Linked DNA regions of Homo sapiens: region 2 is linked to region 1. The links come from fine-mapping of genetic effects on gene expression. Tissue or cell type: skeletal muscle. Region 1 holds a variant in brackets; the other region holds the start of a gene. All regions are shown on one strand. Distances are from middle to middle.

The links. PIP is the estimated chance that this variant, and not a neighbour inherited with it, causes the effect.
Region 2: CD52 starts here. The variant in region 1 is fine-mapped to the expression of CD52 in skeletal muscle (FUSION, PIP 0.95).

Annotation. Positions count from the first base shown.
Region 1 is chr1:26,266,139-26,268,820 of GRCh38, reverse strand. It overlaps CEP85 (centrosomal protein 85), which reads right to left. Exons shown (of 14, transcript NM_001319944.2): 8 at 186-338. Among named protein-coding and RNA genes, the nearest start is that of SH3BGRL3, 13 kb to the left of the region's middle. The variant T/C (reference allele first, on the strand shown) is at 1,548.
Region 2 is chr1:26,316,717-26,319,398 of GRCh38, reverse strand. CD52 (CD52 molecule) reads right to left here and starts at 1,441. Exons shown (of 2, transcript NM_001803.3): 1 at 1,328-1,441. The coding sequence starts at 1,381. It also overlaps a transcript of UBXN11 not described here. RefSeq lists enhancers at 435-534, 1-661, 1,035-1,184, 1,315-1,384 and a silencer at 1,459-1,651.

The sequences.
Region 1 (2,682 bases):
CTGTCTGGGTACCTCAAAAAATTTGCAGTCTGGTTACAAATCTGACAATTATGAATCTGGACATGACTGCTTTGGGATTCTCCTTTCAGCAAGTCACAGGATAACTGCATACAGCAGATGATGAAAAAGTTCCCCTGCCTGGCCACTCCCTGATCACCCCAGGCATGCCAAGACATTGCTGCTACCTGCTGGCTCTGCTTCTGATGGTCTTCCAGTGTGGGCAGGTCAGCCAGGTAGCGCTCCAAGGTCTCAATACGCTGCTGCTTCTCCCGGTTCTGCTCTGATTCCTTCTGGCATTTCTTTTTCAAATTATTGATATGTTTATCACGACCTTTGACCTAGGAAAATAAATGTCAAGTCTGTCTCCACCATTCACTCCACTATGACCCTGCTGGAGTGCAGTGCTGTGATCTCAGCTGACTGCAGCCTCCACCTCCCAGGCTCAAGTGATCCTCCTACCTCAGCCCCTGGAGTAGCTGGGACTGCAGGCACACACTACCACGGCAGGCTAATTTTTCTATGTTTTGTAGAGACAGAGTTTCGCCATGTTTTTCAGGCTGGTCTCCAATTCCTGGCCTCAAGCCATCCGCCCACCTTGGCCTCCCAAACTGCTGGGATTACAGGCATGGGCCACCACACCCAGCCACATCAACTTTTTTTGAAGCAACCCTTGAGGCTGTGAATGTTGTTCTACTGCAATGAAGGTAGGAAGCTAAACAAATTTTGCCATTTAGGATTTGAGTATAAAACTAAAGAATTAATGAACTTTCAAATCAAGGACGGAGAAAGTCTTCTAGGGCAGTTTTTAAAAACTGGCAGCATTTCTGTTGTAAAATACAGAATTTGTCTGGTCTCTGTACCTGGTTCCTGGGAGGCCTGTAACCTCTAAGCCCTTGGAATTTCCTGAATTGGACAGGAGTGGGCCAGATCCCATCATGAGTAAATTTATGCCAATACTATGACTCAGAATGGATGCAGATCACCAGAAAAATCAACTGCTTTAAGCCTAATCTACTATGGGGAAGGCAGAGGGACGGGTGATTGAGTTCAATCATGCCTACATAGATAAAACTCCAACTAAAAACTCTGGACACAGCAGCTCACTGGAGCTTCCTGGTAGGTAAACACATAAATGTGCTGTGTTTACATGCTCTTATTCCACAAGGAGAGGGCATGGAAGCTCTGCTCTCAGGATGCTCCTGGACCTCACCCTATGTCATTTGGCTGGTCCTGAATTGTATCCCACCCCCCTTTTTTTGAGACAGTTTCGCTCTTGTTGCCCAGGCTGGAATGCAATGGTGCAATCTTGGCTCACTGCGACCTTCGCCTCCTGGGTTCAAGAGAGTCTCCTGCCTCAGTTTCCCGAGTAGCTGGGATTACAGGCACCCGCCACCATGCCCAGCTAATTTTTCTATTTTTAGTACAGATGGGATTTCACCATGTTGGCCAGGCTGGTCTCGAACCCCTGACTTCAGGTGATCCACCTGCCTCGGCCTCCCAAAGTGCTGGGATTACAGGCATGAGCCACTGCACCCAGCCCTGAATTG[T/C]ATCCCTTATAATAAAACTGTAATAATAAGTATAGCACTTTCCTAAGTTCTGTGAGTAATTCTGGGAATTATTAAACCTGAAGGGGTCATAGAAGCCTACAGATCTGCAGCCAGTTGGTCAGAAATACGGGTGGCCTGAAGACCCCAAAATTTGCTGTTGGCATCTGAAGTAAACACAGTTTTGCTGAGAACTGTGCCCTTAAACCTGTGGAGTCTGACACTAACTCCAGATGGTGTGCATCTGAATTGGACTGCAGAAGTATACATAACTTTCTGATAAGACATATAACCAGTTTGGTCAGAAAGGTAATATATTCTTCCCTAAATACCACACATGATATAAAGCCATGCAATCAACTGGAAAGGCTAATGAGACTTGAGAGAAAGAGCTATGTCTGTTTGCTAATAATCATATACTAAACACACGGCAGAAGGCCTGGCACAGAGCAGGTATTCAATAAAGATTTGAACAGAGGCTTTTTCTTCACCATTATGGTGCTTTGTTTTATTTTGTTTGCTTATGAACAAGGAAGGTGAGGAAAGCAAGAGAAAACAGAAAAAGTGATGCAGATCTACTAAATGTCAAAGAGGCGGCAAAGGCCTAATTTAATCCAAAGATATAACAGTACAAAGAAAGATCCCTGAAAATCAGCCAAAAGCTTATCCTAGGTCCAATCTGTACTCTTAAATTTCTGAACCAGTGATTTTCACATTTCAGTATGTATCAGAATCACCTGGGAAGCTTACTGAAAATGGTAAACTGACCATAAATGTTTATCTCTTCTCCCTTCCAAAAACATCTTTAAAATGACAGAAAAGAAATAAAGTATTAACTGAGAAACAACAGGGGAGGAAACAAAAGTCTAGGAAAGATTTATTATTTTTTTGAGACAGGGTCTTGCTCTGTCACCCATGCTGAAGTGCAGTGACACGGACACAGCCCACTGCAGCCTTGACCTCCTGGGCTCAAGTGATGCTCCCACCTCAGCCTCTCAGTAGCTTAGACTACAAGCGTGTACCACCATGCCCAGCTAATATTTAAAGAAAAAACAATTTTTTTTTTTTAGATGGAGTTTCATTCTTGTTGCCCAGGCTGGAGTGCAGTGGTGTGATCTCAGCTCACTGGAACCTCCAC
Region 2 (2,682 bases), 51 kb before region 1:
CAAGCTTCACCCCCAGGTTCACGCCATTCTCCTGCCTCAGCCTCCCGAGTAGCTGGGACTACAGGCGCCCGCCACCACGCCACGCCCGGCTAATTTCTTTTTGTATTTATGGTAGAGACGAGGTTTCAATGTGTTAGCCAGGATGGTCTCGATCTCCTGACCTCATGATCCACCCGCCTCAGCCTCCCAAAGTGCTGGGATTACAGACGCGAGCCAGCGCGCCCGGCTCGCCCAGCTAATTTTTGTATTTTTAGTAGAGACGGGATTTTGTCATGTTGGCCAGGCTGGTCTTGAACTCCTGACCTCAGGTGATCCGCCTGCCTCGGCCTCCCAAAGTGCTGGGATTATAGGCGTGAGCCACCGTGCCCGGTCACAGAACCTTTCTTTTCACCTTTCCCCAGCGACCAGCCCTTCTGGCATAGAGGGAGACAGGGGAGCCCTGGCCCTTGACCTTCCTAGCCTGGCAAAGGGCTTAGCTTCCCTGAGCCTCAGTTTCATCTTCTGAGTGGGGAGAAGTTCATCACAGTTGTGAAGGTCACATGAGCCAGGGCTGAGTGAGAAAGCACTTGGCAAAGCGTGGGTGGCTGGATGTGGGGTGGGGAAGTGGCCAGATGGTGATCGAGCTGTCCTTAATGCTTGATGGAGCTGCAACTAGAACTGTTCTTGATGGAGATTAAGCTGGTTTTGATGGTGATCAAGCTGTTCTTGATCAAGAACTTGATGGCTCCGGTCTGCTGTACTGACTCCCCTCTGGGCACCTGGGATGCTACCAAAGCTGCCTCCTGGAATAGCAGTCGCTTTTGAGACTCCAGTTGTTTCTGAAATGGGAGAGTCCTGTCTTCTTTGCATTCCTGAACATCCAGGCTTCTCTCTGGCAGGGGAGTGGGGGTTAGAGTGTCCCCTGTCACCTCCATAACCACAGCAGGCTCCACTTGGACATCTCCTGGCCTCTCCCCAAAGGACCATCTCCCCAGACTCCCTGTGGGCCGATGCCTTCCTCACTCAGGGTTGTCTTCCCAAGTCTCTTAGTTCTCTATTATTCCACAACACCCCTTGGGTGCCCCAACGCGCCTAGCACCCTGTAAGTGCTCCCCAGCTGTGGATACAGGTTTCTCTCAGGGCAGCCCGCAAGCAGTGCAGCCCCAGCCAGAAGAGCTGGAAGGCTGGGCGGCCAGGCCCGCTGTGTCCCCAGTTTTCCTGTTGGAGTCCATCTGCTGTGCTCTCAGGAGAGAAGGCTGGGTCTCTGGGAGCTCACATCCTGTATGCCCTCCCTCCATGCCAAGCAACTTTGGGGAGTCCTGGCAGTGGTGCCAGGCGTTGCTCTTACCTGTACCATAACCAGGAGGCTGATGGTGAGTAGGAGGAAGAGGAAGCGCTTCATTTTGGTAGGATCTTCGTGGCTGTCTTGGTAGCAGCTTTTTAGGTGATCTCAGGGCTGTCTGGAGGCTTCTTTTGGTTTAGCTGCTTTTGAACCAGGAGGCAGAGGAGGCGGGGTGAGGTAGGGAGAGGAAGGAGGGCTTACAAGGTGGAGGAGGGGTGTGGCTTCCTTTCTGCAGATCTGGGGGTGGATAATACCAGGCTCTAGGTTCTAAGGCCCTGGCTGGGGGAGCAGGCTAGATCGTACAAGATAGGAGAGAGGTCAATCCAGAGGCAACGGTGGGAGTAAGTAGGGCCCAAGGCCTGGAATCATGCATCCTGCAGGCTGAATCCTGGTTTAATCACTGACCAGCTCTGAGACCCTGGGCCAGAAACTCTACCTCTCTGACCCTTTAACAAAAGAACTGCCGGATTACATGTAATAATAACCAATTTAAAAAGAGCCAGAACATAGCAGATATTCCGTAAATGAGTTTGTTGTTTAAAGAAGATTGGGGCAGGGTATAGGAGCTGAAGGAGAAGGGCTGGGATAGATTTATGTTTCAAGGGAAGGTTGTAGATGGGCTGCAGGTTCTGAATGAAAGCTTGGGAAATGTTTAGATTGTGGAAGGGTTGGTGGATTTCTGTGAAGGTGCTGGAGGTGAGGAATCGGGAAGCCTGGTTTCAGTTGGGCTTTCCCTCTCTAGGCCTCAGTTCCTCATTTCAAGGAACTGGGAAGACTGAAATAGATTATTTCTGAAGTTTGTTAAAACCTAGTGTTTTGTTTTGTTGTTGTTGGTTTTTTTGTTTTTTTTTTTAAACAGAGTTTTGCTCTGTGCACTGGCATGATCTCGGCTTACTGCAACCTCCACCTCCTGGGTTCAAGCAATTATCCTGCCTTGGCCTCCCGCATAGCTGGGACTACAGGTGTGTGCCACCATGCCTGGCTAATTTTTTGTATTTTTTTTTTTTTTTTAGCGGAGACTGGGTTTCACCATGTTGGCTAGGCTAGTCTCGAATGCCTGATCTCAAGTGATCCGCCTGCCTCGGCCTCCCAAAGTGCTGGGATTACAGGCATGAGCCACCGCGCCCAGCCAAGACCTAGAATTTTGTGATTTTGGTAGAGAAAGTAGCAAGCAGATGGGTTGTTTGTATTAGCTGAGGATGAATGGGAGGGGAGCGAGGGAAGGGACAAGTGGGTGACTAAGCTACAGTGGAAGGGGACTGGGGTGAGAGAGTGGCTGTGAGGGCCCAGGGAGGGGTGGGGGGATGAGAGGAATCCCACAGCTGCCTGGATAGTGCTCCATGCTTTATGCATTCCCTCAC